Linked DNA regions of Homo sapiens. The protein of the gene in region 2 purifies or fractionates together with the protein of the main gene of each other region. This does not show direct contact. Each region holds a gene or a part of one and is shown on either strand. Other genes may lie near its edges.

What was found.
Region 1: the proteins of DDX24 (region 2) and NPM1 purify together in Homo sapiens (affinity purification with mass spectrometry; 5 studies listed by BioGRID and IntAct, with this or other methods). This does not show direct contact.

Annotation. Positions count from the first base shown.
Region 1 is NC_000005.10:171,390,542-171,398,150, reverse strand, and holds part of NPM1 (nucleophosmin), read right to left. Parts: intron 6,847-7,609; coding exon 6,727-6,846; intron 6,446-6,726; coding exon 6,352-6,445; intron 5,442-6,351; coding exon 5,335-5,441; intron 5,238-5,334; coding exon 5,173-5,237; intron 1-5,172. UniProt on the Homo sapiens protein: Involved in diverse cellular processes such as ribosome biogenesis, centrosome duplication, protein chaperoning, histone assembly, cell proliferation, and regulation of tumor suppressors p53/TP53 and ARF.
Region 2 is NC_000014.9:94,050,203-94,057,202, forward strand, and holds part of DDX24 (ATP-dependent RNA helicase DDX24), read right to left. Parts: intron 4,983-7,000; coding exon 4,794-4,982; intron 2,926-4,793; coding exon 2,796-2,925; intron 1,261-2,795; coding exon 989-1,260; 3' UTR 1-988. UniProt on the Homo sapiens protein: ATP-dependent RNA helicase that plays a role in various aspects of RNA metabolism including pre-mRNA splicing and is thereby involved in different biological processes such as cell cycle regulation or innate immunity.

The DNA.
Region 1 (7,609 bases), on a different chromosome or scaffold from region 2:
AAGATAATCTGTAAATCTTGTGTCTGATAAGGGACTTGTTTGCAGAATACATAAAGAATTCTTGGGCCCAGTGCAGTGGCTCACGCCTGTAATCCCAGCACTTGTGGGAGGCCGAGGCGGGCCTGACCTCAGGAGTTCAAGACCAGCCTGGCCAACATGGCGAAACCCGGTCTCTATTTAAAATACAGAAAATTAGCCGGGCGTGGTGGGGGGGGTGCCTGTAATCCCAACTACTTGGGAGAGGCAGAAGAATTGCTTGAACAAGGGAGGAGGAGGTTGCAGTGAGCCAAGATCACATCACTGCACTCAAGCCTGGGCAACAGAGACTTGTCAAAAAAAAAAAAAAAAGAATTCTTGCCAGGCACAGTGGCTCACAGCTGTAATCTCAGCAGTTTGGGAGGCAGAGGGAGGTGGATCACTGAAGACAGGAGTTTAAGAACAGCCTGGCCAACATGGCAAAACCCCTTCTCTACTAAAAATACAAAAATCATATCAAAAAGAAAAAAGAAAAAAGAATTCTTACAACTTAGTAAAGACAAAGAGAAGTAAATGGATTTAAGTGGGCAAAAACATTTCTCCAAAGATATATGGCCAATGAATACATGAAAAGATGCTCATTATTAGTCCACAGGGAGACGCAATCAAACCCACAATCAGCACTTCATACCACCAGGATTAGAGTCAGATAATGGCAAGTGAGGGTGTAGTGAAATCAGTAGGTTGGAGTGAAATCAGAAGCCCCATACACTGCTAGTGGGAATACAATGGGTGAGCCACTCTGCTTTAGGTGTACATCCAAGTAAAATGACATGTCTACAAGCGTTCATAGCAGTCAACAAGTAGAAGCAACTCAAATGCTCACCAACTGATGAATAACCAAACATACCCATACAATGTATTCAACCATATAAATAAATGGAGTACTGATAATGCTATAACATGGATGAAACTTGAAAACACTGTGCTAAGAAAACAGTCACAGAAGTCCATTCGTGCAAAATATGAGGGACAGGAAACCTATAGACAAAGTTCATTCGTGGTTGACTAGAGCTGAAGAGCATGAGGGGTAATACCTATAGAGTACGATTTCTCATTGAGGTGATGAAATGTTCTAAAATTGATTATGGTGATGGCTACACAACTATGCATACTAAAACCACTGAACTGCACACTATTTTTTTTTGAGTTTTACTCTTGTTGCCCAATCTGGAATGCAATGGTGCGATCTCGGCTCACTGCAACCTCCGCCTCCCGGGTTCAAGCAATTCTCCTGCCTCAGCCTCCCCAGCAGCTGGGATTGCAAGCGCCCACCATCACACCCAGCTGTATGTTAGCAGAGACGGGGTTTCACCATATTGGCCAGGCTGGTCTTCAACTCCTGACCTCAGGTGATCTGCCCGCATCGACCACCCAAAGTGCTGGGATTACAGGTGTGAACTGTTAATAGGTAAACAATGGAGGGGAGTAATCAAATCGAGTCACTGGAGGGCAAGTCAGGCAGAAGTCTCTATTAGCAAATACCAAGGGGTTCACGTTTAATTCAACAACTGAACGTACTGGTCTCTAAATCCCAATACAGCAACTTCATGTAAGAAACACCTATCTTTCCAATACCGAAGAAATATTTGCTGTATTTAGAAAAAGTATCATAACTTAAAAAGCTGTCACAAATAGCCCTTCAAGTGGCTTTTTAACAGTGATTTTGTCAGTACAAGTTTCTGGCATTAGAACCCAATCCCTGCAGGTGCCTCCCCTGTGCTAGAAACAAGATGAGAATGCTTTTTTTAAACATTTTTTCTTATTTGTTAAAACAAGTCTATTAAACTACTATCAAAATAGCTATCAAAACTACTATCAAAACAGCTTTACTGGCAGGGTGTGGTGGCTCACACCTGTAATCTCAGCACTCTGGGAGGCTGGGGTGGGCAGATCACCTGAGGTCAGGAGTTCAAGACTAGCCTGACCAACATGGCGAAACCCCATCTCTATTAAAAATACAAAAAATTAGCCTGGCATGCTGGCACATGCCTGTAATCCCAGCTACTTGGGAGGCTGAGGCAGGAGAATCACTTGAACCCGGGAGGCAGAAGTTACAGTGAGCCATGATTGCACCACTGCACTCCAGCCTAGCCAACAATGCACTTCAGCCGGGGCAACAGAGACTGTCTCCAAAAAAAAAAAAAAAAATTCAGCTTTACTTAAGAAATTCCCCAAAAATTAAAAAAGACATTTAAGGGCCACATACTATCAACGTATTACATACATCTATGTATAGTATACATCAGCACTATGCACATTACATAGCCTTTCTTGCTTAAATCAAGAGTCATCTGAGCCCACACCATATACCCATTCCATCCTCAAAAAGGAACCAAATTCCCCTTTGATCTGTGTTCAAAAGGTTAGATTTCTAAGTAACTATAACGAACCTTCATGCACCTCTTTGCATTTTCATTGCCATCTATCTATGCTGGGCCCTTGCCATCTCACCACTGAAGTTTCTATTAATATTTGTTTCCCTCAAGGCATCCTTTACTACTATGCAGACCTTAGTACACTTTCTTCAACTTATATGAAAACTTGCGGCGGTGCATGGTGGCTCACGCCTGTAATCCCAGCACTTTGGAGTTCGAGACCAGCTTGGCCAACATGGTGAAACCCCGTCTCTACTAAAAATACAAAACTTAGCCAGGCGTGGTGGCAAGTGCCTGTAATCCAAGCTACTCTGGAGGCCGAGGCAGGAGAATCACTTGAACCTGGAAGGCAGAGGTTGCAGCGAGCAGAGATCATACCATTGCACACCAGCCTGGGGCACAAGAGCGAGACTTGCCGAAAAAAAAAAAATCCCACAAAAAAAACCAGGTACTGATTTGGACCTTGATATCTACACTTTTCATTCCTATCAATGCCCAACTTAAAGACAAACAAAATTACATTGTGGTTACATCATGAATTTATACCCATTTTTCTGAGATGGGAGTCTCCCTCTGTTGCCCAGGATGGAACACGGTGGCGCATTCTTGGCTTGCTGCAACCTCCACCTCCCAGGTTCAAGCAATTCTCCTGACTCAACCTCCTAAGTAACTGGGACCAATAGGCAGGCACCACGATACCCAGCTAATTTTTGTATTTTTAGTAGATACCGGGTTTCACCATGTTGGCCAGGCTGGTCTTGAACTCCTGACCTCAAGTGATCCACCCACCTCAGCCTCCCAAAGTGCTGGGATTACAGGCGTGAGCCACCATGCCTGGCCTAATTATATCAATTTTTAAAAAAGGAAATCTTCCAAAGCCCCAACAGGGTCAATACTACAATCAGGTCCTACTCCAAAGCCTTTCTGGAAGGGATTGCTTGTCCCCGAGCCTCGGTGAATGCTATTAAACACTTATTTTATAAACTTGTACAAAGGTAACTCAAAATCAGACTAAACCAATCCGAACCATACCATCCCTATTTCTAATTTGTGTTTTTAGCCTGTTTCCCATTCTTCTCTTGGAATGTATTTCAATTCTTACTAACGAGAAATATTCTTAAAAGTGATAACCAAACAAGCTGGGCTTGGTTATGCTCCTGTAACCCCACCTGCTTCATAGTCTGAGAGGGGAGGATAGCTTGTGCCCAGAGATTCAAGTCCAGTCTGAGTAGCATGGTAAAACACCATCTCAAGAAAAAAAGTGGCCGGGCACGGTGGCTCATGCCTGTAATCCCAGCACTTTGGGAGGATGAGGTGACCAGATCGCCCGAGGTTAGGAGTTTGAGAATAGCCTAGCCAACGTGGTGAAACCCCATGTCTATTAAAAATACAAAAATTTGGCTGGGCGCAGTGGTTCACATCTGCAATCCCAGCACTTTGGGAGACCGAGGCAGGTAGATCACGAGGTTAGGAGTTCAAGACCAGCCGGACCAACATACTGAAACCCTGTCTCTACTAAATACAAAAATTAGCAGGGCATGGTGCCCCGAGCCTGCAGTCCCAGCTACCCGGGAGGCTGAGGCAGGACAATCGCTTGAACCCAGGAGGCAGAGGTTGTGGTGAGCCGAGATGGCGCCACCGCACTCCAGCCTGAGCAACTGGAGACTCCATCTCAAAAAAAAAAAAAAAAAAAAAGAAAACAAAAACAGCAACAGTCAAATACTACCTTTAAGTTTGCGTTCATTTATAAGTTTGACATGCAAGTACTTTGAATTTTTATTTTTCTTTTGAGATTGGGTCTTGCTATTTTGACCGGGCTGGCCTCAAGAGATCCTCTCATCTTGGCTGGGTGTTAGGATTACGGGTGTGAACCACTGCGCCTGGTCATACTTTGAATTTTTAAGCTTTCGGCTCTTTCGGCCTTTTTCCTGTTTTCTGCCTTCATCGTCATGCTCAAAGATTTTGAAGAACCACCAGCTTAAAACCTAAACTCCCAATTTGATCTTTCATGCAGGTTCTCTTTTAAAGTGCATGTTCTTATATTTGTTTTCAATAAATGCATATGGACCAACCTCAGAACTGAAGGACAAAGCTGAGAGCCAAATCAAAGTATTCAATGCATTACTGGTACTGGCACACATAAGACCAATTATAAACAGTACTTTATACCAGTGTGCGTATTAACTGTTTGTAACAATAGTTTGATCTAGTTTAATATAAAGTCATCAAATATTGTTTCCAACCATATTTTAAATCCCAAGAAAATCTTAATATCCCTTTTAGAATCTTATTTTTGTCAATAAATATCTACATAAAACCATAAGACAAAATCCTTTTAGGGAATAACAAACCTTGAGTAACAACTTGTAAAATGAATATAGAGCTATTTAATCATATTTTCTTTCAACCCAATCTCATTAACTGCTCACCATAAAACATACCAGGCTTGATGGGTATAACACATCCACTAAATCTTCAGAACAAAGGGACATAATCAAACTTCACAAACACTATAGTCTACCCTTCTGAAGAGTCACAAGTCACAGCATTGTAAAGGCTCACAGACCCAATATCCTTTCAACTCAGCTCATTTAACTTAAACTGACAACAGATGACCACCTGCCCTTTTATTATAAACTATTACATAGGATGGCTTTTTGTAAATGACTTTTATAAAACCCTCATGCATATAACTATGTCAAATTCCTTTTTTTGTCAAGATTCCGGAAGTATATCAAGTTTCTAAAATCATACTTACTCTTCATCATCATCCTCTTCATCATCATCGTCATCATCTTCATCAGCAGCAAGTTTTACTTTTTTCTTTTAAAAGAAAAGATACGTACTCATGAACAAGAGCTGTTCTATCACCAAACTAAAAGCTATAATACAAAACCTATAATAAAATTGCCATCTCTACCTGTGGAACCTTGCTACCACCTCCAGGGGCAGACCGCTTTCCAGATATACTTAAGAGTTTCACATCCTCCTCCTCTTCATCTTCTGACTCTGCATCTTCCTCCACAGCTAAAATACAATTTATTAGACATTATAAAACTCAAGCAGCAAGAAGTCAGAAAAAAAAAGAACACTGATAGTAAATACTCTAAAAACTGAGACTTCTATTCTATTTAAAAAAAAAAAAAAAAAGAGCACATGGGAAAAGGAACTTTTTAACAAAAGTATTTTGAGGCCTAATGTTCACTGCCAGGTTTTAAATGCAAGAAGCCTGGGGAGGGTGGCTCATGCCTGTAATCTCACTTTGGGGAGGCCAAGGCGGACCACTTGAGGCCAAGAGTCCAATCTGGGCAACATACTGAGACCCCATCTGCACATATACAAAAAAAATTAGCCAGGCGTGGAGTGTGCCTGTAGTTCTAGCTATTCCAGAGGCTGAGGTGAACCCAGTAGCAGTTCGAGGATATAGCAAGCTATGATCACATCACTGCACTCCAGCCGTTATAATGAGACTGTCTTTATTAAAAAATAATTTTTAGGCCAGGCACAGTGGCTGACACGTGTAATACTAGCACTTTGAGAGGCCAGGGCGTGCAGATCACGTTAAGGCCAGGAGTTCAAGATCGGCCTGGCCAACATCACGAAACCCCTTCTCTACTATAACTATGAAACGCAACTGGACTTGGTGGTGCACGTCTGTGGCCCCAGCTACTGGGGAGGCTGAGACAGGAGGATCGCTTGAATCCCGGAGAGGTTCCAGTGAGCCAAGATCGTGCCACTGTACTCTAGCCTGGGTGACAGCAAGATTTCCTCTCCCCCCCGCCCCAAAAATTTATTTGTCCTCTCCAATTTCTAGACTCACATTGGAACCTATTAAAAAGACAGTAGTACTATACCCATGCTTTAAGTCCAAACTGGGAACCAAGCAACTGCACTAAAGAGGACAAACTAAGTAGTATAATATATAAAAATAACATACCTACTAAGTGCTGTCCACTAATATGCACTGGCCCTGAACCACACTTCAACCTTAAGACCACTGGTGGTGTTATTTCAAAGCCCCCAAGGGAAACCTAGAAGGGAGAAATTTTTCATCACTAAACATGTGAAGAAAATGAACAATAAACATTACAGGCAAACACATAAGCCAAATCAACAAACCAGTGAACCTGTTTTTCCACCTCTGATAAAAGTAGCAGCAGAAGCCCCCATGTTCAAGAGTTGACCATCGAACTCCAGTGACAGAAGATAAAGAACCACTTTCTATCTCCTTGGCACAACTAAATGACACCAAACCTACCTTAAAACAGAATTAAACCTTGACACAACATCCAAAGTATGTAAGTGCCCTTACCGTTGGCTGTACAGACATTTTCAAAGTTGCCAGTGTTACTTTAATTGGACTGCCTTCGTAATTCATTGCCTCTGCTTCAACAATGTGCAACTCATCCTTTGCACCAGCCCCTAAACTGACCTGTGAACAAAAAAAAAATACTACTTCAACTTTTGAGTTCCACCTATTTTACACCCCCCCACTAAATGTTATATGCAGCCATGCGTCACTTAACCACAGGGCTAGGTTCTGAGAAATGTGTTGTTAGACAATTTCATCTTTGTACAATCATAAGAATGTGCTTATACAAACCTAGATGGTATAGCCTACTACACACACCTAGGCTACAAACCTGTACAGTGTTACTGTACTGAATACTGTAAGCAACCGAAACACAGTATTTGTGCATCTAAGCATAGGAAAGGGCCGGGCTTGGTGGCTCATGCCTGTAATCCCAACACTTAGGGAGGCTGAGGCGGGCAGATCATGAGGTCAGGAGTTTGAGACCAGCCTGGACAACATGGTAACAACCTCGTCTCTACTAAAAACACAAAAATTAGCCAGGTGTGGTGGCACATGCCTGTAATCCCAGCTACTCGGGAGGGTGAGGCAGGGAATTACTTGAACTCGGAAATCAGAGGTTGCAGTGAGCCGAGATTACACCACTGCACTCCAGCCTGGGTGACAGAGCGAGACTGCCTCCAAAGAAAAAAAAAAACAGGAAAGGTATATTAAAAATAAGGTATAATAATCTTATGGGACCACCATTGTATATGCGATCCATCTGTTGACCCAGCAGTTGCAATGAGGCACATGACTGTGATTTTTTTAAAAAACAAGTATAAACCTCTCACTATTACCCTGGAAAACAAATTTGTGCAATGTTGTCCTCAGGTTTTGTGAT
Region 2 (7,000 bases):
GTTCCCTGAGCACATATTTATACCAGGCTGACCAAGCCTTGAGTTCCTCTTCTCCCAAGGAGCTCAGCTAAGGGAACACAGCATGGCAAGTGCTATGAAGAGGGTAAGCACGGGACACTAAGGGAGCCCCAGGAGAAGCACTGCTTCCCCTTAGAGGCTCAGGACTAGAGGACCCATGGCAGTGCTCCAGGATGGAGAAGGCCAAAAGGCAATCCAGACCGAGGGAAAAGCCTATTCTGCACAAAGGCTCAGGACAAGAGAAGGGGTGCATGGAACCGTGGGCAGGAGCCTGCTCTGTCAAACAGGAGGGAGTGGAGACAAGGCTGGGGCTAGATCCTGAGGGCTTCACACGCCAGACCTAGCGACTGTTACTGTTGGCTCTGTGATGTGAGGGAAGCCTGAAGACAGCAACCTCATCCCTGCCCACCTCCCACGGTGGCTCAGACAATACCCAGGAGAGTGGAGAGAGCTAAGGAGCTATTAGGGTGCTGCTCTGGGTAAAGCAGGAACATGCACCTCTTGAACATTCCAGCCTCTTGCTCCATTCACACTGTCCAATCTTGGCCTGCAGCCAGAGGCCTGACACTATTCCTGTCCTTTCAAGGGCTTAGCACTGTGCTGGCCCAGGAGAATCACTAAGTTAATAATGAAACAAACTACACCACCACCCCCATCTTCTATCTAAAAAAAAAAAAAAAAAATCAGGATGACACAATGGCTCTGACCATTGTTTTTAATTTATGAAATCAAGTTTAACACACAAGAAGCCTATAAACACTGCAATACAGAAAAATTAAGCTGCTGCATTGAATTCTTACTCCAAAACAATGCAAATCTGCATGAGGTCTCTCCCGCTATGGGTGTGAGTGGAAGAGAGGGAGACTTTTTTACCTGGGGTTGGTGGTGGAGTGAAACACAAGGGTGGGAGAGGTTTTGCAAATAGCCAGAGAACAGAAACCAATGTGCAGTCACTGACACACTTGACCAGTTAATTTGCACTTGTACTTGGCTGTGGCTGTTCCGGCTGTGGCTCCTTCGGCTTCTTTGTCTTCTTCTTCTTCTGCTTGGAGAGACAGCTCAAAGCAGACTCGCTCTTACTTGGGGCAGACACAAGCAGGGGCGGCTTGCCAGACTGAGTGGGATACTTGGTTTTCTGGCTCTCCGTAAACAGTGGCTGGGACAGCAGGTGGCGCAGCTCCTTCTTCAGAACCTTCATCTGCTTTTGTCTCCGACGTTCTTCTTGCTGGTCAGCTTTTCCTCCTTGAAACACAATACAAAAACGATCCTATTTACTATGGTTTGTAGAAACATTTTGTTTCCCTTGATGGGTAACACAGTGAAAAATGTTTTAGAACTACTTTAGGGAGGCAGGGTTCAAAAGTTCTCTGAAGAAGCTAGTGGTGGCTTGGCAGGGGCTGTAAATGGATAACGTCTAACCATTTGCAGGGGATACACAGGACCGCTCTGTCCTTTTTTACTCCATAAAAATCCTCCAAGACTGGAATTATCTTTACAGATGAGGCAACTCAGGGTTAGAGAAGTCACCTGGCTCACATCACAGAGCCAGTCATCAGACAGAGCCCAGAACCCAAGTCTCCTGACTGAAGATCACTTTTCTTCCTATGACCCACCCACTTACTGCCCACCTGGGGTTTGGTGAGTTCACAATTACAACCCCCACCTCCCTGCCGCCCCAGGAGACACTGAATGCTTCTTTGTAGCCCAGCTCTCCTATGCCTTGCCACCAGTGCTGTGACTGCACATGGAGAAGCTGGCAGAGCCAAAAGGTTCCACCTCAGTCTGTCCTCAGGAAGGGAAGCCAGGGCCTCCACATCTTCGGCCCAAGCCCCAACCCTGAGCCACCAGAAATAGCTCACTGTCATCAAGCCCACTGGTTTGGCTCCTGGCTTCCATGCTGAGCAGACAGCAGTTAAGTCTGCCTCTGAATTTGCTGACTTGGGCACCGAGGTGTCAACATCTCTGCTGAGCTGCATACTTGGTGGTGTGGAAGGAGCATGGAGTTCTAGATTTGGTTCTACCACTTTTTAGACCAGGAGTTTTCTCAAGCAGGGACCGGGCAGATTCATCCCTGAAGCCTCAGCCTGTGGTCACATATAGAGTAGCAGCTCTGGAAATGCCTTGTGACAGAGCTGTTTCCCTGCACAAACTGCCTCTGCTGTGGTATCTAGTTTCCATATGTAAAAGAAGAGTACTTCCTGCTGTGTTCATGTCATGAAAGTGGAGAAGATCAAATGAGATAATGGCATGGAAGTGCTTTGTCAGCTTGGAAGGCAGGTGTAGTAGGAACCATAATGACAAATAACTTAAAATGTAATACTTTCTATTTGCCAGGCAATGCTATAAGCACTTAACATTTTTTAACTCAATCAGTCTTCACAACAATCCCATGAAGTAGGTAGTTGACTACTTCCATTTTATGGAGGAGAAAGCTGAGAACACAACAGAGGTTAAATAACTTGACTCAGTCACATAGTTAAGGCAATGAGCCGGCATTCTAACACAGGCAGCCTGGCCAGAGAGCCTGCTCCCTTCCTCACTGTACTCCACTGCCTGTCCATGTAAGAGGAGGCAGCTGAGGGCACAAGACAGAGACAGAGGAAACAAAGACTGACCGAGGGCAGTAGGCTCACCTGGGACCAGGGCCTGTTAGCAAAGAGGGGGAAGGACGCCTTGCTGATTTTGACAAGACCCACAGTAGTAGAGATGGTTCCAACAAAGCAAAAGTTAAAGAGAGATTTCAACTTCCTCAATTCCCATCCCGCCCAAGGGCTTACCCTTATACATGTCTTCTTCCAGCTCAATCTCCAGGGCAGCTGCTGCCTGCTCAATCCAAGAGTTGTGCAGGCAAGCCTGGAAGTTCCGATACTCAGATTTCTCAATCTGTCGAGCTAAACGGATTCGCTCCTGGGGGGAAGTAACAGAAAATATTCATCTGAAATAGAGTTCAGGCCTCTGGGAAGCAAAGTCTCACTTGAGTTGTGTTTGTGTGTTTAAGGCAGGTATCACTCTGCTGCCCAGGCTGGAGAGCAGTGGCATGATCATGGCTCACTGCAGCCTCAACCTCCTTGGATCAAGCAATCCTCCCACCTCAGCCTCCCAAGCAGCTGGGAGGCACCACCATGCCTAGGTAATTTCTTTTTTTTTTTTTTTTTTTTTTTTTTTTTCGTAAAGACAGGGTCTCAACTGTGTTGTCTAGGCTGGTCTTGAACTCCTGTGCTCAAGCAATCTTTCCACTTCAGCCTCCTAAAGTGTTGGGATTACAGGCGTGAGCCACCGTGCCCAGCAAGTAGTGTTTTTAAAAAGCTCTTGAGCCGGGCATGGTGGCTCACACCTGTAATCCTAGCACTCTGGGAGGCCAAGGCGGGCGGATCACCTGAGGTCAGGAGTTCAAGACCAGCCTGACCAACATGGAGAAACCCCGTCTCTACTAAAAATACAAAATTAGCTGGGCATGGTGGCGCATGCCTGTAATCCCAGCTACTTGGGAGGCTGAGGCAGGAGAATCACTTGAACCCGGGAGGCGAAGGTTGTGGTGAGCCAAGATTGTGCCACTGCACTCCAGTCTGGGCAACATGAGCAAAGCTCCGTCTCAAAAAAAAATTAAAAATTAAAAATTAAAAATAAATAAATAAAAAGCTCTTGAGATCAGTGGTGAGATGCAGTTCAGTTCCTGTTGAAATGCATTTATTGCTTCCTGATAAAAGTCCAGTGGGCAACCATTACCCGTCTGTGTGTACACATCTAAACACAACTGCCAGCTTTCCCAACAATCAACCTGAACAGCCACATCCTTTGAAAACCCTTACTGGTTTGACTGCCAACCTATAGGTAACCAAAGTGAAGTCTTTACGCAGATGCCACAGCTTGCTTCCACAGCTGAGCTAAGATAAAACATTTCAACTCTCCCTCTAGAGGGTTTTGGGGTTACAGTGCAGTGGCAAAATGAGAAGGATCTTGTGATGTGGGGAAAGAAACCAAGGGAAGCCTGGGTGGCTCCTAATCCTCCTTACTAATGGGAATTCTCTATGATTTCCACTTTTCCATCCTTATCTCCACCCTATTTCCCCACACAGCTAATATTCCTTTTGAGCCAGAGAAGCCAACATTCCTTGAACTGTGCCATGGTTTTGCTCCCTCAATTCCTGGAATTCCACCTCCTCTGTACCCTTCCACATCTTTGCCAGCAGGAAGCTGGGATAGAACCTCTTCTCCTCCCAATGTAACCATATGCCCAGTAATTCCATACTGCTCCACTGTACCTGAACTTTATTCACAGCTGGCAAACCTCTGGGAAGGAGAACCCACCCCACTTTGGTCACTAATACAGTGTCCCATGGTAAGCGGCACCTACCTGGGGAATGCCTGCTGAGTTAAAACCCAAAAGACAGAATTTACTGGCACCTGCTCCAGGGATGTGCCAAACCTGTAGCATCTGCCTCAGCAGGAAACACTAACCACACTGTCTACAACCCTCTGACAGGATATCCAGACAGCCATGACCACTGCACTGTCTGGTGAGGAGGGGGGACTTCAGGGCCAGAGAAGGAAGAAATGGTTCAGGGAGAAAATGCCTCCCACCTTCAGTCACTCCCCTTTTCTCCCTTTTCCCAGGTATGTTGCTCTCAATCCTTTCTACAAGTCTCCTTGTTCAGCTGTTGGCAGAACCATTCCTTAGTTTTCAAGGGTTATGCTGCCAGAGTCCCACAGCAAGGTGCTCTGCAAGGGAGCAGCACAATCCCTTCATTAGCACTGGGGTTTTAACTGCTTTCTACCTTGACCACATCCATGTATTTTGTCTGCACGGGGAACAGTGGGATATCCTCATCTTTCTTGAGCGTTTTGTAAATCTTCTTAAAGTTGATCACATCCTCAGGCCCAATGAGCATCAGACTGAGGCCTTCATTGGTAGCTCGAGCAGTTCGACCACTTCGGTGGACATAAATCTCCGAGGTACGTGGGACCTGCCACAGGAAGAACTGGGAGATCAATACATGGCCACTGCCAAACACTGGTCCTCTCCTCAGGGCCACATCCCCAAACCAGACCCTCCTACCTCCCAGCCAGGCAGGTAGAAACTTCTGCAGCATTGTAGAGCAATCTAGCCCTCCTCTCTTAGTCCCACATTCAAAATGTTCCCAGGTTTAGCCCATTCACTGTGTAGGCTCTTCCCTCCCATGCCCCTGACCCTGGTTCAGGTCCTCAGGACCATGCAGCCAGACCACAGCAGTCACTTCTTATCCAGGATTTAAGCAGCCCAGCTCCACAGACCATGTTAATCCCTGGGTTATACGGTCTCTACTCCTATATATATTTTATCCATAGATAATGTGGCATGGTTGCTAACACACCCACTGAGCCCCTGGCACACACCATTAATCAAGCACAACAGTCTTCTCCACTGGGCCCAGATAACATCTAGGTATCCTTTTCAATACAGTACTTTAAGTAGCCACTATGAACTGTTCATAAGAGTTCTAGAAATGAGATTTGCCTTTCTTTACTTACAGGATAAAGGCCCAACTCTTCAACCTGACACTCAGCGCCTTTAGTGACTTGCCCTCAACTTACCCCTCCAGCCTCAGCAACTATTCCTTTCCCAACACATACCCTCTTCTCACTGTGAGCCAAGTGCCCCTGAACACTGCCCATTTCTTTGCTCCTTCCTTTAATGCCTCTATATGTCCAAATCCTCTTCACCCTTAAATGCCAGGCATGTTTTTAGAAAGTACTTTCCAACCTCCCAAACTAGAAGTTACCTCTCTCTTCCATTGTATTTTGTAATTTTCTAATACCTTCTGCCTTAAATTATGGCTGTGGTCATCTCACCTCCTCTGCTGGATCCAATACTTCTTAGGGGCTGGGACTGTATTTGATTCATCTTGACTCCACAAAGGTTGACCCAGCTCCTTCCCCAAAAAAGGGAAGACTATAGAGATTTGCTAAACCAAAATTAGCACCTGTGATACAGTGAAATATGTATTTGCTCTTCATCCTGTTTCCTGGCAAAGGAATCTCAAAAGTAATGTCTTTTTGTATACTAATGACAAACTATTGACTGATGGCTGATAGCCCCCCAGGTAGTTTCAGGATGGGGGCTGGTCACCAGAAAGGCCAAGGCAGGATTAGAAGGTTGGGACTTGCAGCACTACTTCCTAAAGGCCAATGGCTTAATTAATCATCTTACCCAATGAAGTCTCCATAAATATTCCTAAAGGACAGAGTTTGGAGAACTTTTGAATAAGCTGAATATGTGGACATTCCTGGAGGGTGGTGTACCCAGGAGGGGCATGGCAACTCCATGCTCCTTCCCCTGTACCTCAGCCTATACATCTCCCCATCTATATTCTTTGTAATATCCTCTATAATAAACTGGTAAATGTGTTTCTTTTAGTTCTGAGAGCTGCTGTAGCAAATTAATTGAACCCAAAGCGGGGGGTCATGAGAACCCCAACTTGAAGCTGGTTGGTCAGAAGTTCCAGAGGCCCTGACTTATCGACTGGTTGCGGGGAGGAGGGACATCTTGTGGGATCTGAGGCTATCTCCAGGAAGACAGCATCAGAAAATGAAACTAAATTAGAGGACACCCAGCTGGTGGCTGCTGCTTGATATGTGGTGAAAAACGCCCACACATTTGGTTACAGAAGTCTTCTATGTTGATTGTTGTTGTGAAGTGAGAGAATGGGAAAAAGCACTGTGAGTTTGTTGTTTCTCTGAAACAGCAGCCTAAAAGATTTTTAAAAGCACAAAGAGGAATTAAAGAGGAAAAATGATAATGCCATACCAGCTACCATTTATTGAGTACTTACACTGTGCTACCGGCTTCATCAGCATCAGCTCAATTTAATTCTCAGGATAACCCTATGGGGTAGCTAGTTGTTACTTCCAGTTTACAAACAATGACACTGAAACCAGAGGTACTAAATAACTTGCCTAAAGCTAACCAACTATGAAGCAGCAGACTGGGGATTCAAAGCCTGGC